3 separate regions of the Homo sapiens genome follow, and regions 2 and 3 are each linked to region 1. Evidence: fine-mapped expression QTL. A gene starts in region 1. Each other region holds a variant in brackets. All regions are shown on one strand. Distances are between the middles of the regions.

What was found.
Region 2: its variant is fine-mapped to the expression of RASA3 in tibial nerve (GTEx, PIP 0.95).
Region 3: its variant is fine-mapped to the expression of RASA3 in testis (GTEx, PIP 0.97).

What each region holds. Positions count from the first base shown.
Region 1 is chr13:114,128,802-114,136,801 of GRCh38, forward strand. RASA3 (RAS p21 protein activator 3) reads right to left here and starts at 3,822. Exons shown (of 24, transcript NM_007368.4): 1 at 3,634-3,822. The coding sequence starts at 3,688. LOC107987192 (a long non-coding RNA gene) reads right to left here and starts at 2,202. Exons shown (of 2, transcript XR_001750050.2): 1 at 1-2,202. RefSeq lists enhancers at 1,030-1,659, 1,698-1,957, 2,248-2,747, 2,918-3,545, 5,834-6,013 and 1 more and silencers at 3,338-3,997, 4,028-4,127.
Region 2 is chr13:114,031,109-114,039,108 of GRCh38, forward strand. The region is part of intron 4 of RASA3 (RAS p21 protein activator 3); the gene reads right to left. Among named protein-coding and RNA genes, the nearest start is that of C13orf46, 61 kb to the left of the region's middle. RefSeq lists enhancers at 83-1,024, 4,583-5,151, 5,082-6,281. The variant C/T (reference allele first, on the strand shown) is at 4,461.
Region 3 is chr13:114,072,751-114,080,750 of GRCh38, forward strand. It overlaps RASA3 (RAS p21 protein activator 3), which reads right to left. Exons shown (of 24, transcript NM_007368.4): 2 at 970-1,087. Among named protein-coding and RNA genes, the nearest start is that of RASA3-IT1, 33 kb to the right of the region's middle. RefSeq lists an enhancer at 341-1,540. The variant C/CT (reference allele first, on the strand shown) is at 3,704.

The sequences.
Region 1 (8,000 bases):
CCAGCGGGGAGCCCACGGCAGGCCCGGCCTCCCACGGACGGCATTCCCGGACGCTGACCGCCTCCAGCTCGACGGCAGGGTCACCGCGGTGCGAGAGCCTTTCCCGCCCTGGACCGCGGGGCTGGCTTTTTTTTTTTCTGTAACAGATTGAGAGAAACACCTTGTGTGTTGCTCTTTATTGAACACATGTATCAAGATAAGGCGCCACATTTAAAAACAAGCAGTAAGTATTGTGGAAACGGAAGACATCACTGCGAGGGGAGGAGGCACTGCACGCCTTGGGGGCGGGGGCCCCAAAACAACGCCGTGGCCGTGGCGGAAGTGCCCTCCCTGTGGGTCCCTGACTCATGGAAAGTCCGAAGCACAGGCTTCCTCAAAGCAGCGATCGCATAGGAAGTGTGGCTCAGTCATGCATGATACACAGACTCTACTGTGAAAGGTTAATGACTGTTTCAAAAGACACAGTGTTTAAGATGTTTAAGTGCACAGAAGGACATATCCAAAATGATTCCACAAAACTGAAATGCAGAAAGCCAGATTCTTCAAGACAAAGACTCCAAATTGTTACCACCAAAGCACCTCACTTCTACGTGGCGCTCTCCTCTTATTACCTCACCTGCAAGAGCTGGAAGGACAAAGAAAGAGGAAGGGGGAAAGGAGGAAGAGATTCTTTCCATTTTTCCCAATGTCAACGTCTGAATGAGGCCACACACCACCACACATTTCAAAGCTATTTAAGAATTTAAATGGCCAATGCCCCTATACCTTAAAAAAAGCTCCCAATCCCCCCAGAAATGTGCTGGCTTTTTTTCTTAGTAAGAGTAGTAGCAGAATTGCTTATGGTATAACTTTAGGGACAATTCTTGTTCTGGGAGTGAGGGGGCAGGGTGTTAACTTAACCCTGAACAACACTGCCTTGTACGTTCCCACCGGATGTAGTAGACAATAATTGCCTGGCTTTTGCAAACGGAAAAATGAGGTTATGAAGGGGAAGACACGGGCCCTGGGTCATGCAGCAAGTCACTGGCAGACTCATGGGCAAATCCAGCGCTCCTGGAGACAAGGCTCAGAGGTGAATGACAGCGAGGGGCCCTCAAATCAACCACAGGGGCACCATCTTGTCTGAGCCTTCAAGACCAGGGACTCAGGCAGGGCAAGTCAGAGCCAAGGTTGGCCATGAATGTGGATTAAAGAAAGAGCCTGAGGGGCTCAGTGGCCCCCTGGCACCAGCGCCGCTCAGGGTCATCCTCCACTTCGCTTCTACAGATGGGCTTTCTGCTGGAGCCCCGGGGTATCAGGCCAGCAGCACAGTTACATGAGACTAACCCCAAACCAGCGCACCCACAGGTCACCCTCAGGGTCTCCAGCCCAGACTGCATCTCTGCTCAAATGCAGGAGGTGCCCTGTCTCCCCAGCTACTTGGGGCACAGATACCCCTCAGGCAGCCAGCCCTGCAGGTGACCTCTGGAGGGGAGAGGAAACGGGGACTTCTTGCTGGAGCCACATCCAGAGAGTCGGGCAGCTGGCATTTGGGCCTCTCTACCCGTCCTCACTGCTGCTGCCCCTGGGAGGGTCAAAGGTTCAGATGATATCCAGGCCCCACGTGGGATTAGCAGCCTAAGCCTCAGCTGAGCCAGGGTTTCACTGGCTTGTTTAAAGTGGAGCACAGAGCCTGACCAAGTTGTGGCATCTCCAAACCTCCTTCTCTCCGAGGGATCCTCCAGGGTGCCTGACCCCCACGCCTGTCGGAAGTGGGGCCGAGTGCCCGCAGGCCGGTGAAGCTGCCTTCTGGGAGACTCAGGGTCTGAGTATCTGGTCTGAGACTCTGGTCTTCCCTCGCCCTCCTGTTCTACTTCCCATGCCTTCTGTAAAGTCCTGCCGTGGCCTGAAGTGTAGCCCTTCCTGGAGTACACAGCGAGCATGCTGTGCCGGCTGTGGGCCCCCCACCCCCGAGCCGCAAAGCCCCAGGCCGCCTCTGCCTGCTGCCTGGAGACCTGGCACTGCCCCACAGGGGCACCCACCTCCAGCCCTCCTGCCCCCGTGACTGAGGAAGCCCAGTGCTTCTCACACTCCTCAGACTCGCTGGCTGAGCCAAGCAGCCTTGGCTGAAGGAAAGAGCAGCAAACTGACCCCCACGGGCCGCGACCTTTCCCCACCCAGGCAAGGCGACCTCAGGCACTTCAGGGAGCGCCAGCTCTGGCTTTCTTGTATGAAAGTGACAGCGGATTTAAACCACATTAACAAAAGAAATCCCTCCTCTCTGGACTACTCAAAGCGGAAGTGCTGCCACATCCTAGCTGCAGCGCTTCTGGGCCAAATATCAAGACAGTGTCTCAGCGATGATCCGCAAACCAAAATAAAGCCGACAGGAAACAGCCCGCTGGTTTAGGGGAGCTGGAATGCCTCCGGCAGCATCAAATGTCATCAACAACTGACACTCAGCCCGTTCCCGGAGGCCTCTTCACACGGGAAGAGGCCGGCTGCGAAGTGCGGCTCAGTGGGGGAGAAGGACCGTGGGGACCGCGACACTGCAGGCCCTGGAAGCCTCTCCAGCCTGAACCGCGCTGTGGTCCAGCACACTCATGGCATGAATATGGAACAGTCACTCCAGGAAACGGTCTTGCTCTGGGGGAGGGGGAGGACTTCCACATCACTCTCCCAAGATAAAACAACCAGGGAAAAGCAGATCCCTCCAGATAAACCAGAAGTCCAGACACAGCCTCCTCTCCGGAAACGCCTCCGGGAGCCCACTTCAGAAGCTGCTGAAGCCCAGAGAAAAACCGCAGCCTCGCAGGCCCTGGTCGCCACCAGCTCGCCCGCCACTTCTCAGTGGAAAGGGACGTGGTGCCGATGGGTCCGGGGTCTCCCCGCCCCGCGGGAGCCCTCAGCCAGAACGCCCCACCAGCACACACGCACACATGCACACACACAAACGCGCGCACACACACGCGCCCACACACAAATACACACGCGCGCACACATGCATCCACACACAAATACGCACCCACACATGCACCCACAAACGCACGCGCACACACACCGCCCACACATGGACACACAAACACAAGCACACACAAACACGCGCGCACGCAGGCACAGACGCGCGCGCACAGCAGCAGCAGCGCGCCGGGGCCTCACGCCCCTGGGGAGAAGCGTGAAGGAGCCTCCACATTCCCCGGAAAGGAAGTTTCTGGGCGCAGCGGAGAAAGGGAGATGCCGAGACCCCGACGTCAGTGGATTTGACACCTGAAGTGCAGGCGCCCAGACAGCCTCAGGCGCGCGCACTCCTGCAAACACGCGGGGCACACGCTCGGGCGCACACGCGGACAGACGTCCCTCGGCGCAGGGACCCCACCTCCTCCGCCGCTACCAGGGACCGGGGCCGCTCCGGGCGCAGAGGAGGCGCAGGGAGCCGCGTTACCCCGGAGCCGACTCGACCCAGCCCGAGGCCCGGGGAGGCGGGGAGGTGGGGAGGGGCCGCGGAGCCGGACCAGCCGTTCTCCGGGGAGCGCGCCGCGCCTGGAGGGCGTCTCCGCCGGGGTCCCCAGCAAGGATCTGCGGAGGGGAGGCGGGCGCGGGAGAGGACAGGGTCGGGCCGGGGGGTCGGACGCGTGGCTGCCGGCGGACACTCACCGATCTTGATCTTCACGCTCTGGAAGACCCGGAGCCCCTCGTCCTCCACCGCCATGCTGCGCGTCCGCGCCCGCCGAGCCTCGCCCCAAGCGCGCGCCGAGCCCGGGCAGCTCAGGCCGAGCAGGAGGAGCGGCGGCGCCGGAGCCCCGAGCGCGGCCGAGGGTCCGCCCGCCTGCAAGACCGCCAGTTGGCCGAGGGCGAGGGCGGGGACCGGGAGGCTCCGCCCGCGGCCCGGCCCCTGCTCCCAACTGGCCCGGGCCCTGCAGGGGCGGGGTTGGCAGGGACGGCGCTGGCGGGTGGCGGAGACCCGGGGGGCGCAGGGATCGGCTTCCCCCGAGGCCTCGGCCCCCGCCCCCGCCCCGCGGATTGGCCGCTGAGCGGAAGGGACCCCAGCGGGCTGCCTGGCGGAAGAGACGAAGGAAGGTCGCCGGCGCGGCCCGGGCCCGCTGAGCGAGGCTGAGCGATTGACTCGCGGACGAACTTTGCCAAGAGAAGTTCACGTACAACGATCTGGCAGGGGAGGAATCCCGCGCCCAGCCCCAGCTCCTGAGATGCGATCCGAAGGCACCTGCTGCAGACGCACGAGGGGGGCGGGGACACATACACGCACACACAGCCCCCCACCCCAGACCTCCGGCATGGGCAGGTCCCCCCCCCAAGTCCCCCTGCAGACCCCAGCATGGGCAGGTCTCCCCCCCCCCAGTCCCCCTGCAGACCCCGGCATGGGCAGGTCTCCCCCCCCCAGTCCCCCTGCAGACCCCGGCATGGGCAGGTCTCCCCCCCCAGTCCCCCTGCAGACCCCGGCATGGGCAGGTCCCCCCCAGTCCCCCTGCAGACCCCGGCATGGGCAGGTCCCCCCCCAGTCCCCCTGCAGACCCCGGCACGGGCAGGTCCCCCCCCAGTCCCCCTGCAGACCCCGGCACCGGCAGGTCTCCCCCACCCAGTCCCCCTGCAGACCCCAGCATGAGCAGGTCCCCCCCCAGTCCCCCTGCAGACCCCAGCATGAGCAGGTCCCCCCCCCAAGTCCCCCTGCAGACCCCAGCATGGGCAGGTCCCCCCCCAGTCCCCTGCAGACCCCGGCATGGGCAGGTCCCCCCCCAGTCCCCCTGCAGACCCCGGCATGGGCAGGTCCCCCCCCCAAGTCCCCCTGCAGACCCCGGCATGGGCAGGTCCCCCCCCAGTTCCCCTGCAGACCCCGGCATGGGCAGGTCCCCCCCCAGTCCCCCTGCAGACCCCGGCATGAGCAGGTCCCCCCCCAGTCCCCCTGCAGACCCCGGCATGAGCAGGTCCCCCCCCCAAGTCCCCCTGCAGACCCCGGCATGGGCAGGTCCCCCCCCAAGTCCCCTTGCAGACCCCAGCATGGGCAGGTCCCCCCCCAAGTCCCCCTGCAGACCCCGGCATGGGCAGGTCCCCCCCCAGTCCCCCTGCAGACCCCAGCATGGGCAGGTACCACCCTTACCTCCCTTTCTTCTGTCTCGAGGTCTCCTCCTCCCTGACCTCCTCTCTGAGGAGTATGTTTGTGTGTGTGTATGAACTGTAGGTGTGTATATGAACTGAGACTACACTCCCTCCTCTATGTTGCAAAACTTCATTGCACCCAGTGCCACACACACACCCTACACATATATACACACATACATATACCACACATACACTACATATACATATACATACACATAGACACCACACACAGACACCACACACATACTACACACGTGTACACACATACATATACACACATATACACACACCCTACATACACACACCACATATACACATGAACACATATGTTCATATACACACAACACAGACAGCACACACATATACTACCCATACACATGCACAGACATACACACTAAACATACATACACACACCTACGTGAACATACACAAACACACACACACTGCATGGAGAGGAACAGGAGCTTCATGAAGATAGAGGCCTATTTTTTTCCACTGCTTACCTTCACTTCCTAAAAAGCAGTTCCATGCGTTGAAAGAATGAATGGCCTTTCTTCCCCTGACTGCTGGGAGCCTGCAGCCACAGGGGCCTCTCTCATCCTCAGCCCTTGCAAGCCTGGTGCTCACTGGGGCAGAACAGGAGGTTAAGGCGGCACCCCTGGTTCCAACCCAGAGCCTCTGCGTCTAGCGCTGGCCCTGGGTGGCGTCTGCAGTGGGTGCTGTGGACGCCATCCACACCCCTGCTTTACGACGGAGACTATGCTTCCGTTTGGAGCCACTGGAAGCAAGCCGGCTCCTGTGTTTCTCCGAGGACCAGTGGAGTCCTCTGTGGCAGCCCAGCCACAAAGCTGCTTCTCTGCCATCCCTCCACCCTCACAGGCCTGCTGATAAACTCAACGCGGATCTCGCTTTGGTGTTTGTTTCCAGGCGACAGCTGGGGTCAGGAGTGAATCTCCAGACTGCAGCAGTGGCAGCCAGGACGGGAGCCCCTTGGAAGGAAATGCACTGGCAGCGGCAGGATCTCGGGTGCTGGAGAGTTCGGGAAAGTCACAGATACATGGACTATGGAATCAGGTGGCTCGTGTTGAGGGCAAGATAATGAAAAGATCACCACCTGAAACAAAAGGGTGGCACGCTAACGGGCCTCCTCAGTGCCACATAAGACACTCATCTCCTGTGACCAGAGGAAAACCAAAACACTGGATCAGGGCCAGGACTTAACCGTGTAGAAGGCAGAGCTCCAGAGAAGGCCAGGTGCTTGGCCTCAGAAGGTGTTGTTCCAGGTTCGGGTGCTCGGCCTCGGAAGGTGCTGTTCCAAGCTCTGGACCCTGACTGGGAAGAAGAGAGGCCCTGACTGGGAAGAAGAGAGGCTTGCGATGGGGCCATCTGAATGAATGCACTCAAAAATCTTGAATCCCAGATTCCTCTAAATCTGCTGGGCCTGAAGAGGTGTCACATTTCTGTCTGTTAAGGACAAATGCTGTTTCTGTGCTTGAAGACACTGCAGAGACCTCTGCAAGGCGACACGCCTGCCACCCACCTCCAGCTCAGCTCCTCCAGGTCAGCATCATCAAGCTGGAGAAGTGCTGAGGCTAAAAACTGAGGAAGAGACAGTCGGCCAAGGAGCTTCAGGACCAAAATGCATGCACCAGCATGAGCCAGGGGTAAATGCAGAACTAGATCCAAAGAACGTTGGATTCAGGGGAGGCAGAATGTAGAGTTAGATGTTAGAATTCATTGACATGGGCGCATTCAGTCATGATACAGGGTTTAGCCCCTGGGAGGTGCTCCGTGCTGCTAGGGTGGCGTTTTCAACTCGTAAAGTAAAGCAATGTCCCACATTAAGCAGCTGTCTGTCAGGATTGGAAAAGGCACTCCTGGGGTCCAGGCTCACTGCACCGGCTGGTGGCCCAGGCCCAGACGTCAGCAGGGCTGGAGCAGGGCTTCTCTGGTGCTCCTGCTGGCGGCTGAGGTGCACAGTCACCCTCACCTCCCGGCAAATGAGCACTCCTCTCCCAGTCATGATGGAGAAAACACGCATCTCCCTGACTCACTCCTTAACCCAGCCGCAAACTTCACTGGGTTAGCCTCGGTCCATTTCACTCCTACATCTCGAAACTGTGGTCGTCTTTACGATACCACAAGAACCTGGGGGGCGGACAGTCCCAGAGAAAAAGTTTGTGCTGCACAAATGGATGCTGGGCATGACCAGAGTGCCCCACAGACGGTCGACTCAGACCCCACGTGCATCTCTCCCCAGTCGGTCCCTAAAACCCACCCTCAGTGCTTATCCAGGCACATCGGAGCAAGGTATCTGTATGTGGGGCCCCCAGCCCTCTGAGAGGCACAGGGGCTGAGCATACATCCAGGGCTCCCGCAACAAAACACAGCCCCGCAGAGCTGCCCAAGCACCGGCCTTCTCACATTTGTGTTCTAAATGAAGGATTTGGTCATTCGTTTTCTAAATTAGAAAGTTGTCTCTTAGAGCTGTGATAATATGAGCTGGGAAATAAAATACTGAGAGAAGAAAGGATCAGATGATGACCCAATAGAAAATCTCTATAATTTCTTCTTTCAATGACCTTGGTGTTACACTTTGCTCTCTTTGGATATACTCTTCTGTTCACATATCAACCCATTGACAAGTGGACATTCATTCATTTCCAAAACAGCATTATTAGATCATGTCTGAACAATCTACTTTCAAAGGATTTGAAGCCACATAAATGACCAGTACACAACGGAATAATTTTTGGAGGGTTCAAAGTAAGAACTGAAGGAAGAACGGTGGAATCAGGTATCTGAACCTGAAAGAGCCCATCCTGCCAGGTGCATCCCAAGGGGCTCACTGGGCCTGAATTCAAAATGGAGGCACGCGACCTTTTGCTCACTAGAGGTCACACGCC
Region 2 (8,000 bases), 98 kb before region 1:
ATCTGCTTGTATGTGTCCACCTGTGTGCATGTTCGCCTGTGTGTGCATGCAGCTGTGTGTGTCTGCCTGTCTGTGCATGTGGCTATGTGTCTGTGTGGGCGTGCGATTGTGTGTGCGTGTCCGTCTGTGTGCACACGGCTGTGTGTCTGCCTGTGTTTGCATGAAACTGTGTGTGTCTGCCTGTCGGTGTCTGCCTGTCTGTATGTGCATCTGCCTGTCTGTGTGTTTGGCTGTGTGTGTCCTTCTGTGTGTGTGTGCGACTATGTGTGCATGTCTGTCTGTGTGCAAGCAGCTGTGTGTGCATCTGCCTGTATGTGCATGCAACTCTGTGTGTGTCTACCTGTCTGTAGTGTGTGGCTGTGTGCATGTCCTTCTGTGTGTGTGCGCGACTGTGTCTGCCTGTCTGTGCGCGTGGCTGTGTGTCCACCTGTGTATGTGTGTTTGTCCGCCTGTCTGTACATGCGACTGTGTGTGCATGTCTGCCTGTGTGTGCACCGCCTGTGTGTATGTGTGACTGTGTCCACCTGTGTGTGTGTGCGGCTATGTGTGCCTACCTGTGTGTGCCGCTGTCCCTGTATTTGCTCCAGCCTGAATGGCAATGAATGGATGGGATAAACACAGACTCATCCATGCTTCAGGGGCTCTGCCTGGCCCGGCCCTTAGCTCTAGCTCCTGAGGCTCCGGGAAGGCCAAGGCGTGTTCCCCAGGGCTTGTCCCTGCCTGTGGGAGGGTGGGACAGACGGGCAGAATGCCTGGCGCTAAGACGTGGACGGCAGAACCGACAGCAGCCCTGCAGCACGTGGCCTGGTGCAGAACCTCGGATGGAGCAGGGACCTCGCTTAGGCCCCACCCACCTAAATGATTAAAAAACCTTCGAGTTCCTTCAAAAATATATCAGACACCTAGCCAGCCTTGAGTGGTAAATCACCTAACAAGCAAAATAAATAATAAAATAATAGCCAAAAAATTAGTCAGGAGATATTTATTCCCTATACAAGTTAAAAATAGCATCTTAACATATGTCCCTAAATTGTTTTTCAAAAACCGAGACCCTCACCAAACAGATCTACCAACACAGACCACAAATGCAGGGGGGATCACAGGCCCGAACCCTGAACCCGGCTCTATTCTGAATTTCTTCCTCAGGGGCCAGGAGGGGTCATGCCTGTGGGCCAGAGCCAACATTCTTTTCTGCTGATCTCAATTGTTTGGACAAAGCTTCTCCTCCTTAACCAATCACAAATCAAAAACGCTCTATATCCGACCCATGGGCCACACGTCGTGATGTCTGCCTTCTCAGGTCAAACTGACATACGGCCTCCATGTACTGATTTATGACTTTGCCACAACCTCAGCCTCCCCACCTTCTGAAACCCTTGCCTGTGAACCCTCGGGGTGCCTGGGTCGTGGGCGCAGCCTGCCCTGCCAGGGTGCACACCCCGAAGCCCCTGGTCAGGGAGTGGAACATAAAGCCCTTCAGCCCTCACTTGACACCGCGTCGGTGCAGCCCCACGGCACCCCCACACTTGATACTATGCCCCACGGCACCCCCACACTTGGCACCACGTTCCACGGCACCCCCACACTGACAACACGTCCCACGGCACCCCTACACTTGACACCACGTTCCATGGCACCCCCACACTGACACCACGCCCCACGGCACCCCCACACTGACACCACGCCCCACGGCACCCCCACACTGACACCACGCCCCACGGCACCCCCACACTTGATACCACGTTCCACGGCACCCCCACACTGACACCACACCCCACAGCACCCCCACACTTGATACCATGCCCCACAGCACCCCCACACTTGACACCACGTTCCACGGCACCCCCACACTGACACCACACCCCAAAGCACCCCCACACTTGATACCATGTTCCACGGCACCCCCACACTTGATACCACGTTCCACGGCACCCCCACACTGACACCACACCCCACAGCACCCCCACACTTGATACCATGCCCCACAGCACCCCCACACTTGACACCACGTTCCACGGAACCCCCGCACTGACACCACACCCCACGGCACCCCCACACTGACACCACGCCCCACGGCACCCCCACACTGACACCACGCCCCACAGCACCCCCACACTTGACACCACGTTCCACGGCACCCCCACACTTGACACCACGTTCCATGGCACCCCCACACTGACAACACGCCCCACGGCACCCCCACACTTGATACCACGTTCCACGGCACCCCCACACTGACACCACACCCCACAGCACCCCTACACTTGACACCACGTTCCATGGCACCCCCACACTTCATACCATGTTCCACGGCACCCCCACACTGACACCACGCCCCACGGCACCCCCACACTGACACCACGCCCCACGGCACCCCCACACTGACACCACGCCCCACGGCACCCCCACACTGACACCACGCCCCACGGCACCCCCGCACTGACACCACGTTCCACGGCACCCCACACTTCATACCACGTTCCACGGCACCCCCACACTTGACACCACGCCCCACGGAACCCCCACACTTGACACCACGTTCCACGGCACCCCCACACTGACACCACGCCCCACGGCACCCCCACACTTGACCCAGCGCTCACAGGGGGAATGGAACTGGGTCTGTGCTGCCCAGGCAGGTGTGGGAGGTGGGGCCTCCGCTGCTGTCCTGAGACTCTGGGGTCTGGAGGTTGGGTGTGGCCTTCCCGCCCTGTGGCTGCAGCCCCAGAGCAGGTCCTGAGGGGCCACAAGGATGTTGGGCCGGGAAGGTGGGCATGAACCCCACGCCAGCACTGTGGGCGGGGAAAACAGGTGCCTAAAATGACAACAAAGACCCCACCAAGACCACAGCTCCTCTTCCCACACCCATCAGAGCTCAGGGCTGAGCGGAGTATCGCCTGTGGTCCTCACCGCCTGGCAGCGGGCCTGCTATCCGTGGCTATCCATGGGCTAAAGGAGTGCCCTGAACACCAGCCGGGCAGTGGGCCTGCTATCCGTGGCTATCCACGGGCTAAAGGAGTGCCCTGAACACCAGCCGGGCACTGGGCCTGCTATCCGTGGCTATCCACGGGCTAAAGGAGTGGCCTGACCACCAAAGACAGGAGAAAGTGCCTGACCCAAGAATAACCAAGAATCCCCACTGCTTCATCCCCGTTCTCAAATGCCGGGCGCAAACTCTCTCAGGACAGAAGCGTTCAGATTTGCAAGGCTGTGCAGACGGAGGTAGCTCTATTCACATTCGGGAGCTTCAGGAAGAGTCACGACTGCATGTGGGGGGTCCTGGTCCCCAGCAGCAGGCTGTGTGGCCCCCGTGTGCTCTCCCGGCCCCTGGCAGCAGGCTGTGCGGCCCCCGTGTGCTCTCCCGGCTCCTGGCCGGGTCCAGGGGCACCTGGCTGGTCACCATCAGGTCCTGAGGCTGCTCCTGTTCCTGCAGCATGAATCCCTCCTGACCAGCTGACTTGTGTGCTTTCGTCTTCTGCTGATTCAGGAGTGGGAACAAACAAAACCCACCCCTGGAAGGCCCTTTCTCCTGCCAGAAAAGCCAATGAGTAAATCTGCAGGTGCTGGCGCAGGCTGGAGAATCCCAGACATTTAGAGGTTAAACAACACAGTTCTAAATAACACACAGATCAGAGAACGCAAGACAAATTTTAAAATGTTCCGGAATAAACAGAAATGAAAGTGTTACTCATCAAAATCAGTGGGATGAAGCGGGAGCCGTGCTCGGGGTGGAGGGGAATCTGGAGTGCCGGCCACACAGACTAGAGCAGAAGGGAGATCTGAACGCTGACCTGAGCTTAGAGCAGAAGGGAGATCTGAACGCTGACCTGAGCTTAGAGCAGAAGGGAGATCTGAACGCTGACCTGAGCTTAGAGCAGAAGGGAGAGCTGAACGCTGACCTGAGCTTAGAGCAGAAGGGAGATCTGAACGCTGACCTGAGCTTAGAGCAGAAGGGAGATCTGAACGCTGACCTGAGCTTAGAGCTGGGAGACTGAGAAAAATGAGTAAACTAAACCCAGAGCCCAAGAACAGAAAACAGAAGTCAGATCGGAAACCAATAGGTAAAAATCAAAGCCAACGGCAAATTCCTTGAGAGATCAATAAAATTAATAAACCTCAAACCAGGCTACTAAGAGCAAAAGGGAAAAGGCACAAATTCCCACAGGAAAGGAACGAGAGGACCTGGCTGCCGACCCTGGCACCTGCCTGGACGCTGCACTGAGGTCCCTGGCGCTGCACTCCTGCGAACTCACAGACGCAGCAAAGGGGCCCCAGCGTCCAGCTCCTGACAACGTGTGGCTGCAGTGTCACCCATGGGGCCCTGGGCGGGGGCTGCTGAGGGGTGTATGGAAACTCTGTACTCTGCTCAATTTCCCTGTGAACACAGAACTGCCCCCAAAACAGAGTTAATTAATTTTTAAAAAGCAGCCAATGGTCCCTATCCATCTTTCTCAGGAAGG[C/T]CTTCCCCAGGGAGAGAGCAGCGCGCAGAGCCGGGTCAGGGTCCTGGCCCCACCCACCGGTTGCCGTGTCCCCCACTGAGCGGGCAGCGGCCCAGAGAGCAGCCAGGACAGAGGTGCCTTGGATGCAGGACTGTTCCACGCCGGCCGCAGAGAGGAGACGAAGTCCGCGGGCAGATGAGACAGGATGCAGAGGCCATGAGGAAGGAAGCCCAGCCTCGGCCGTCTCCTCTTACAACCCTGGAGAGATGTGAAAGCTTGACGACGGACGGTGACTTTGTTTGCTCCGAAAATCCTTCCAAGAGGACTGTCTGCTGCACAAACACAAAATTCCCAGAGGCTGTAGCAGGAGGCTGGAATTTCCAGCCCAGTGAGATTTCACGGTGCAACTGGAAGGCTCCAAGGGGGAAACACGTAGGTGTCTCTTGGGCGGATGGCAGACCCAGGGGTTTGCTGTGATCCCCTGCAGGGCTGTGCTATTTTCTGAATACGTCACAGATGCACTTGAAAGCCTGGTTTATAAACGGAGCTCAGTGACCCCCAGGCGCCCAGATCACCGCGGATGCCTCGCTGTCACAGGCGGTGCCCTCGCTGGCATCTGACGCTGGCATCTCCCCCACTGGCATCTGACGCTGGCGTCTCCCCCGCTGGCCCTGCATCAGGGGAGGGTCAGAGAGCACAACTCTGCATAATAAAGTGATTTAACAAAGACTTTCCAACAGTGGCCGTTCCAGAAGGAAGCAAGAAAGGTTTAATTGTGTTTCCCCCATTTCTGTGACTCACTTGCTGGCCTCCCCCATGGGCTGCTTCTGTGACACTCGCTGTCCGGACACAGGACTGTTCCTGGGAATCACAGAGCGGAGGGACTCATGGAGCCACATGGCTACCCCCTGCCTTCCTGAAAATGGTCACTGTGACATCTTATGATGAAACGGCGGCTCCTGAGACTGGAGTTGTGGGGTTTTTTTTCTTCTTCTTCTTCTTTTTTTGAGATGGAGTTTCACTCTTGTTGCCCAGGCTGGAGTGCAATGGCGCGATCTCAGCTCACAGCAACCTCCGCCTCCCGGGTTCAAGCGATTCTCCTGCCTCAACCTCCGGAGTAGCTGGGATTACAGGCATGCGCCACCACGCCCGGCTAATTTTGTATTTTCAGTAGAGACGGGGTTTCACCATGTTGGTCAGGCTGGTCTCAAACACCTGACCTCAGGTGATCCACCCGCCTCGGCCTCCCAAAGTGCTGGAATTACAAGCATGAGCCACCGCGCCCAGCCTGGAGTTGAGGTTTTAAAGGTTGGCTGGAGTCCAGCAGGGCCACTGCTCCCTGTCACGCTACGTTTTGGGCGGCGTTGGGGCTGACTGCATCAGTGAAGCAACGCATTGGAGAGCAGCGGGCATTGGAGAGCAATGACCTTGCCTCCTCCCTTTTAGACAACAGCTCGCATTTGCCTTCCATAAAGTGCAAATTCCCGGGAGACTGACACCACTCGGTTCAGGATCCTCATGTTCCGGACAGTGAGAGTCAGGCTTGGAGGACGCTGGGCTTGGCCACGGGTACGCAGCCTCGGGCGTTAATTATGAGATTCCACCAGCTGTGAGATCAACCTGCGGCATTCTTATTTACAGCTTTGTGGAGATGCAACGTCTGAGTCCTGATCGTCATGGTGGTTACACTATCTACCCTGTGATGAAGTTGCACCGACTGTCACAACAGCCCATCGGCAGGTGACTGGAGCAACAGCACACGCTTCGCACCTCGGACCATTCCTCAGCCTTGGAAGGAAGGAGGTTCTGATACCACAAGCGACCCGGAGGATGTCACGCAGAGCGACATTAGCCTCAGAAAGACCAGCAGGGTAGAGCTCACTCCCATGAGCCACGGGGAGTGGCCTGCGTCAGAGACAGAGTGCCATGGGGCTGCCGGTGGGGAAGGGGCGGACGGGAGCGTGTGAATAAAACTCTAGCCAGGGGACAGAGGGGACGGAGGTTCCGTTTTGCAAGATGAAAGGAGCTCTAGAGATGGGTGGTGGTGACGGTTATACAATATTATGAATATATTCAATGCTATACCACTGAATTGGACATTTTAAATGGTTAAAATGGTAAATTTCATGTCTCTGTTTTACCACATAAAAAACTGGAAAAAATAGCATAGAATACACAGAGAGACACACACAGAAACACGTGCCTGTGAACTGGTGAAATCTGGATAACATCCGTGGACTGCACAAACGTCGGCGTCCTGGTTGACGTTGCACCAGCTGCGCATGGCAGTGCCTGGGGAAGCCGGGAGAAGGGAGCACAGCCTTCTGTTTGGGGAAGCCAGGAGAAGGGAGCACGGCCGTCCGTTCGGGGGAGCCGGGAGAAGGGAGCACGGCCTTCCGTTCGGGGGAGCCGGGAGAAGGGAGCACGGCCTTCCGTTTTCAGGGAAAGGTGGGAATTCGCCCCTCGCCACTCCTGTGTACTGTTTTGATGCCTTCCTATAGATCTATAACCATTTCAAAATTAAATCAGTAAAAAAAAAAAAAAGGCAAGAAAGAGGAAAAGCTACACCTGCCAATAAAACCAAACTTGAATCCGAGGCAAACGACGAGGCCGCACTCTGCCAGCTGCTCAGAGGCCGTTGTGACGGAGACCCCAGCGACGGCGGGTATCCCAGAATAGAAGAGCTGGGGAACTCGCCGACACGCAGGCGGGAGCGGCCCAGTCACCAAGCCCCGTCTCCCGGGCAGCACGTGGGAAACCCCGCCTTTCTGCCGGGACGCCAAGGTCCGTGGGAGCAGCACGCTGGGGCCCTTGTGCTCCGGGGATGCGAGGACAGTCATTAGTTCTGCAGTAATCACAGCGTCCTTCACTTTCCACAGCACGTGTGGGTTCCCCAGCCAGTGCTTTCCCAGGAAGCAGAGTTAATTAAGTGTGACGCACAATTAGCACAGGTCCCTTGGGGCAGGGCCATCCCCAGGGCTTCTTGGCTCCACTCCTTAATTTCCGTCAAGGGCCTCACCCCACCCCCACAGCTGGGCTCATGGTCAACTTCATGAATGAACCCTTTGCTGGCCATGGGCGTGTGCACAGCTCATGACCTTGGCAAATGGCAACCTTGACCCAGTGAAGCGCAGAGGATGAGGGTTGCCAGGGCAAGACGGTTCCCAGAGGACGAGGGTTCCCAGAGGACGAGGGTTCCCGAGGGATGAGGGTTCCAGGAGGATGAGGGTTGCCGGGGGACAAGGGTTCCCAGAGGACACCAGGCCATCCAGTCCCCCAGCCCAAATTTGCCCTGAACTTGCGGGCACAGAGCCTCCATCCGACCCACCCAGTTGCCTCTGCTGAAGTCTCAGGCGAAGTCCTCACAAGGAACCTATTTTGGGGATTTGTCCAGGATGCCAGCCTCCAGGTGTAAAAATAACCATCACAGCCACCAATTTACGATGCGCCAGGTGCCTTCGAGTGGCACACACGCCATACCAGCACGCTTCACAAACCCACCCAGATGGGAAAACTGAGGCCTGCAAAGGACGTTGGCAACAATCCGATGAGGGAGCTGGC
Region 3 (8,000 bases), 56 kb before region 1:
AAACTAAGCAGGAGGAAAATGGGAAGGTGATGTACATGCTCAGGACATAATCTACATACAGAAAAATTCTCTACACGCGGGAAAATAGGATGGTGACGTACACGCTCGGGACACTGTCTACACACAGAAAAATTCTCTACACGCGGGAAAATGGGACAGTGATGTACACGCTCAGGACATTCTCTACACATGGGAAAATGGGACGGTGATATACACACTTGGGACATTGTCTACACATAGAAAAATTCCCTACACGCGGGAAAATGGGACGGTGATGTCCACGCTCGGGACATTGTCTACACACAGAAAAATTCTCTACACGCGGGAAAATGGGACAGTGATGTACACGCTCAGGACATTCTCTACACATGGGAAAATGGGACGGTGATGTACATGCTTGGGACACTGTCTACACACAGAAAAATTCCCTACACGCAGGAAAACGGGACGGTGACGTACACGCTCGGGACATTGTCTACGCACAGAAAAATTCCCTACACGCGGGAAAACGGGACGGTGATGTACACGCTCGGGACATTGTCTACGCACAGAAAAATTCCCTACACATGGGAAAATGGGACGGTGATGTACATGCTTGGGACACTGTCTACACACAGAAAAATTCCCTACACGCGGGAAAATGGGACGGTGACGTACACGCTCGGGACATTGTCTACGCACAGAAAAATTCCCTACACATGGGAAAATGGGACGGTGATGTACATGCTTGGGACACTGTCTACACACAGAAAAATTCCCTACACGCAGGAAAACGGGACGGTGACGTACACGCTCGGGACATTGTCTACGCACAGAAAAATTCCCTACATGCGGGAAAACGGGATGGTGACGTACACGCTCGGGACGTTCTCCACACATGGGAAAATGGGAAGGTGACGTACACCCTTGGGACATTCTCTACACCAAAGAAAACACATCAGTGCCAAGTAAAGCAACAGAAGACATTACCAGAGTGACTTTTCCACAATTTTGGTCCTGAAAACCTCCTCCTGGTCCAGGTTCACCGTGCAGTAGCAATCCCTCATCTTGCTCGGCCCCGGGTAAGAGGGAAGGTTTTTGGCTTCACCTAAAAAGTAAAAGCGACATACATCATCAGCAGCGTAGAAATGTTTGTTCCCTGCTACATCGCAGACACGTTTCCAGCCTTTGCTTGTGTGCATTCACTAGCTCTCTATAAAGCCTTGGTTTTTTTGCCACCACAAGTCAAAATGTGGATGTGCACCCCATGTGTACTGCCGAAAGGCGAGGGACATGCACGCCACCCTCTAATGCAAGTCCCGCAAGCAGGGACCTGCCAGCCTGGGACTCAGGATTGCTGTGTCTTGTTTACCTGCATTAGTCCCTTTATTTTAATTTTTAACATACAATTTTCCATCTCTGACCTGCTCGCGTGCACAGTTCTGTGGCATTAACCACGTTCACCGAGTTGTGCAACCATCACCACCGTCCTCTCTGGAACACTCTCGTCTTCCCAAACGGAGACTCGGTCCCCATTCAACACTCACTCCCATCCCCCTCCTGCTGTCTCCCAGTGGCCCTCACCCCACTTTCTGTCTCTGTGGATCTGACTACTCTGGGGCCTCACGTCGGCGGGATCCACAGGACGTGTCCTTTCAGCCCGGCTCACTCTACTCAGCAAATGTCCTCCAGGGTGGCCCCTGCTGTGGCCGCTGACTGGATTCCCTTCTATTTTAAGGTTGAATAACTTCCATGATGCAAAGGGACCTCGTCTTGCTTATTCATTTATCCACTGAGTCCCTTTTTATTTTGAATTTTATTTTATATTAGGTCAAAGTTGGAGCCAGAATTAAAGGAAAGAGCTCTTTCTTGTGGACGTGAGTTAACTGTAAACTCCAGCTGTTCGAATTGCCAGTAAAGAGAAGCGTCCCAGAGGGACCTAAGCTAGGTCCACCTCTCCCTCCTTCAAGCCCACAGAGACGCCACCTGGACGTGCTTGAAGGAAGTGGGGCCAGTTCCTGGCTGGCCCTGCAGAAAACGCCCGTGATCCCGGACTCCTTGTTTGCCAGGGGTCAGTCTGGAGGTCATAACTGAACCCCAGCTGCGACTTCTCTGCTGGAAGCTCGGAGCATGCCCCAGCGGCAAGCCTAACGGCCCAGTTTACTGGAGAATAGGGAGTGAGCAGGAAGGGATGAGTGACAGCTGTCAATCCAGACAGCGGATGCCCAGTTTAAGTCCATTCTGTAAAAAAAACGCCTCAAACACACTCGCGCCTCCCCAGGGCCTTTTCTGCCTCCGTCATTTGGCTCTAAAGACGCCTGGCAGTGGCGTCTCCACGACGCAGGATGAGAGGACAGATGCAGGCACAGGCACCACGCTGAGACCACACCAAGGCTCCTGCTGGCGCCACTCAGGGCCACATCACCTTATTCTTGTTGAAACAAACAAAATCAAAAACGGGAGCAGAGTAGAAGTTTCTCAGAACCCCACTTCCGCCACTCCGCGCTGAATGTTTCGCGTCAACTCAGCAAGCGCACACGTCATGGCTCACATGGGGCAGTCGGCTCATTTCAAAGATGCCAGTTTGCAAACTGGCATGCCAGCAACTCCAAAGGGCAGAGATAAACTCAGTTTGAAGCTTTTTAAAGACTTTTCATCCACAATATTAACCTGAGGCACTGTGAGAAGGAGCAGAAGCCCCAGGGTCTGGACAACGCCTCCCGTGTCCGCGCCGCGTATCTCTGCGTGTGGAGGCACCGGCAGGACGAAGCCTCCCGTGTCGGCGCCGCGTATCTCTGGGTGTGGAGGCGCCGGCAGGACGAAGCCTCCCGTGTCCGCGCCGCGTATCTCTGCGTGTGGAGGCGCCGGCAGGACGAAGCCTCCCGTGTCCGCACCGCGTATCTCTGCGTGTGGAGGCGCCGGCAGGACGAAGCCTCCCGTGTCCGCACCGCGTATCTCTGCGTGTGGAGGCGCCGGCAGGACGAAGCCGCCCGTGTCGGCGCCGCGTATCTCTGGGTGTGGAGGCGCCGGCAGGACGAAGCCTCCCGTGTCCGCGCCGCGTATCTCTGCGTGTGGAGGCGCCGGCAGGACGAAGCCTCCCGTGTCGGCGCCGCGTATCTCTACGTGTGGAGGCGCCGGCAGGACGAAGCCTCCCGTGTCCGCGCCGCGTATCTCTGCGTGTGGAGGCGCCGGCAGGACGAAGCCTCCCGTGTCGGCGCCGCGTATCTCTGGGTGTGGAGGCGCCGGCAGGACGAAGCCTCCCGTGTCGGCGCCGCGTATCTCTGCGTGTGGAGGCGCCGGCAGGCGTTCCCAGCAGCACCCGCTGCTGCCCACACGGAGCAGCTCTCAGGGTCTCACTGCTTGCGGCCGTTTCCCGCCAGTGCCCCCAACACACAGTCTACCTCTCTGGGCCTCAAAGTCCTGAACTGCAAAAGCAAGAGACACAGCAGCTCTCGAAGGCTCCTCCGGCTCTGAGACGCCTCTAATTCAAAAGGTTCTGGAAATTTTTATTTTGGGAATCATTAAGGAAGCATCAATGATAATCGGTTGGTGGGAAAAAATGAGTATTTCCTGATAGGCACTGGACCCTCAGAACACCTCAACACGGCGACTCTCCCGGGATGCGCCTTCTTCACCCGCTGCATGGGAGAACACAGCTAGGCTGCTACGAGGCACCTGGCTCCAGGCCAGGCCTCAGGTCGGTCATCCCATGTCAGAAGACAGG[C/CT]TTTCCGAAGGCTCCCACCGATGTGAAGATCCCACACGCAGCACACGCACACACGCAGCGCACACACGCAGCACACGCACGCAGGCAGCACCGCACACACACGCAGCACACGCAGGCAGCACACGCACACACACGCGGCACACGCAGGCAGGGTGTGTGATGAGTTCACAGGCACGAAGGGGAGAACATGGCCGGCGAGCTTCTCCAGAGAGGGAAGGGAGCCTGGGGGATGGCAGTTGAGGTTCCCGGAGCAGACGCAGCCTTCCTGGTGGCCGCGGCTGCCCCTGAATTTGAGGGCAGCCGCAGCACACCCAGCAAGTCGGACAGGGGCCCCTCCAGCCTCCCGGCCCTGTTTTGGAACTGACGGCTTCTGCAGCAGATAGAAGTCCTTACCCTCAAACACAGCTTGACTTTGCTGACTTTCCTTCTGACACCTTTACAGTGTGACCTGACGCTGACCATATTTCCCTTGGGATTTTACTGGGTTTTTTGTTTTTGTCTTTGGGAGTTTTTTGTTTTTGTTTTGTTTTCTGGGATTTCTTTGTTTTTTGCAACAAATGAGTGTAGATATTTAGCTGTAAGTTCCTGTGTTTCTTAAAAGGAGAGAGAAAAAAGCTTTTGAAAGTCCTGTGGGAGATGGTGTTTGTGGATAATACGGAACTGAGATTTGTTCCCACAGGGCCTCAAATCACAGCAGTAACAGCTGGGTCTTCCGAAGGCGGACACTGCAGGACGGAAACACACAAGCTTTCTGTGGAGTCCCTGTAAGACAGACGCCGTACGACATGAAAAGGCCGGATCCCCCTGCGCTGGCGCCAACACACCAGATTCATCCCTCCCTGCCTGATGATGCCCAGTCCCACCGCACTGGCACCAACGCACCAGGTTCCTCCATCCCTGCCTGACGATGCCCAGTCCTACCGCACTGGCACCAACGCACCCAATTCATCCCTCCGTCCCTGCCTGACGATGCCCAGTCCCCCCACACTGGCACCAACACACCGGATTCATCCCTTCCTCCCTCCCCACTCAATGATGCCCAGTCCCCCCACACTGGCACCAACGCACCGGATTCATCCCTCCCTCCCTGCCCGACGATGCCCAGTCCCACCGCACTGGCACCAATGCACCGGATTCATCCTTCCTCCCTGCCCGACAATGCCCAGTCCCCCCACACTGGCACCAACGCACCGGATTCATCCCTCCCTCCCTCCCTGCCCAACGATGCCCAGTTCCCCCGCACTGGCACCAAGGCACCGGGTTCCTCCCTCCCTGCCCGATGATGCCCAGTCCCCTGGCCCCAAAACACACCAGGTTCCTCCCTCCCCGCCCGATGGCCCCGTCTTTACCTCCTTCTCCTTGCTCACTGTCATCTGGGGCTGAGACTCTTTCTTTTTAATCTACTTTTGCTATGATGCATTTAATAAAAAAAAAAGTGGGGGGACAAAATGCAAGCCCATTTCCCTGCCTCAGGCTTCTGATGCCATCACCTCCAAGGCACTGGTTTTGTTTCCAACTGTTAATAAAGCATTGAAACAGAAAAAAAAAAAAAAAACTCCTGAGAAACATCCTGGTTGCTATGACGACAGCAACACCAGGGAGCCTGCTGGACGCACCAACATCCAATGAGCTGCTCAGACCAGGAGGGCTGGGGCTGCTGCAGCACGGCCTGGCCACGTCGCCCCGGGGCCTCGCCGTGTGTGCCACATGCACCAGGACCGAGCCTCTCCCTGCAGCCCCACAGCTGAGCGGGACGGGGGCTGCCCCAGCTCCCAAGCAACTGTTTCTTCTCCACCGCACCCCAAACAGTTCATTCAGTTACCTTCACCAAAGGTGCCTGTTCTGTCTCTCTTAGAGGAAACACGTTTTCTCTTTTTTTTCTGGTGCACAGAGACGTTCATATAAAAAGACAAAGCTGTCTGTGGTATACAGTAAGTACCTAATTATCTGTTGCATGCATGGATGAATAAATGAATTAAAAGAAAAGTAAACTGGTTTCATCCTAACAGCCAAATAAGTAACAGTTCTCATGACCACTTTTCCCACAGACCATGCCTCTAAAACATATGCGGTGTGTTCACCAGCCGGCAGACTGATGAAGACAGCCAACACAGCACCTCGCATCGGCTCTGAAAACTCAACTAACAGGAGTAAAAGGCAGCACTTAAACACATTTAATGTAAACAGCATAACACCGCAAAACCTGATTTCCAACTCCAGGGATCAGGCAGTGAGTAACAAAAACAAAGGCCCTGATCCAAAGCGTCATGACTCCCACGCCCACGGCAGCCCTTCTGGGCCATGGAGGGAAGCTGCACCCTCAGGGTGAGCACAGGCCCAGCCCTGACCGAGGGTTAGGATGCCCAGGCTTCCCTGGAGGCCCACACAGGGTCTCCAAGTGCTGACAGCGAGCTGTCGGGGCTGCCCGCAGCACCCGGAGCCACACCCCTGTACCCAGGAGGAGCTGTGAGGGCATGGGGAGGTCTCCACAGACCCCACCCAGCACTGCTCCTCCCTGCAGGCATCCTGGGGAGGGCCCTCAGGCGGGGCTGGCCTCATGTACTGCTCAACACAGCAGCGGGCGTCTCCCAGGCGCTCAGCAGCTCAGCTCAGCGCCCAGTGAAGAGGGCGGAGGAAGGAATGAAGGCAGCCACGGGTGAGGACGAGGGCCCAGGGCTCCACTGAGCAAAGCTCCTGGCACCAACCCAGACAGAAGACGTCCTGGAGAGGCCAGGGCTGTGCTGGTACTGGCCGCGTCCACCCAGGCTGGGCGCTCTTCTCTTTCCCACGTCATCACGGCGTTTTACTCAACTACAGGTCGGCCTCACTGAAATAACGTGGAACAGGTGATGGCGACAGCCCCGGTGCATGGTCCAGCGAAAGCAACCCCGTCCCAGCAATAAAGCCCAGGGCCTGTTGGGGAAGGAGACCCTGCGGGAGAATTGGAGGAAGTGCGGCTCTCAAGGCTCCCAACCTCAGCCTTTTAGTCGTCCCAACGCAAAACATTCAAAGGGGCCTAAAAATTTTGCTAGGCACACAGCGTCTTCTAACAACATAAAGTATTTACCGGAACAATAGTCTTGTGACTAAAATATCTGAATAAAGGATGAAGAGCCCCGTCTACTTTGGGCTATTTAGAAGCCTGGAACAGCGATCCCAGCCCTGGCCCCTGGGATCCTCACTCGAACAGGTCCTCCTCCAGGCCCTGGCAGGGTCTCAGTGAGGCACAGAAGCCTCTGTGCCATGCGTGGGTAGAGACCCCTCTCCGGGCTCTGAGCTGCTGACTGCAAGGCCCATGTGCCCCCTGGCTCCTGTTCGCCTCTGGACACGGGGGCTCCGTGACTGGCCTCTGAGTGGGCCTGAGTGCCCGTCCGCACTGGCCTCCCCACCCGGCACCCTCCGTGGGACGAGGCTGCACATCTCGGTGGGCTGACTGCGGTGCAGAGGCCATAAGAGGAAGAGGCGGGGGGGCCCCGAGGCAGGGGACACAGCGTCTTGAGGACACAGCATGACCCTGACCCCCACGACCCCTGGCAACACAAGTGCCTTCCCGAAGGGCCTGCGAAGCTGCCAGAAATAGGCAGAACTCGGCGAGGCCGTGGGAGTGGGGTTTCCTCTGGGCCGAGTCGAGGGCAGACGGCACCTGCTCTATCCTCACGCTCAGGAGGGGCAGAGGCCGCTGGGCTTGGATGGAGCCAGGCCCAGGTCTTGTCCAGGGCTCTCCAGGGCACCATGCTCCTCCCTCAAGAGGACTCCTGTGGGTTATGAATGACAGAAGCCCAGGCTGCCATCCTCAAGCAAGGCACCCCCCAATCCTCCTGGCCGGGAGGGGCTGCTGGGAGCCCCTGGCACCAGCGGGCTTCTGTGGGCGGTGGAAGGAGGAGAGGGCTGTGCGGGCTGATTCCAAAACTCACTGGGTGACACCACCTGCCCAGGGAGGGCCCAGCACTGCCGTCCAGGGGGTCTGCCTGTCGTCCAGTCTCCTTGAGAGCACCTCCAGCTCCCTCCAGTCTCCACGGCTCTTCAGAGGGCACGGGAGGTTCTGCTGAGGGGCGGGTGACCAGGCCCAGATGTTAAACCCTCCCAAATAACGGGCATATTCAATGTAATTGAAACTTCCACCACAGGGAGAATGAGTCTATGGTGACGGGGTGGCAGGAGGGGTCCTAGAAGGCGCCCACTGTGCTTACTGGAGGCCTGACCCCGACAACGGCTGAAACAGGGGTCTCCCCCAGGGGCCACTGAAACAGGGGTCTCCCCCAGGGGCCACCTCCCAGGGCACGCTTGGATTTCACTA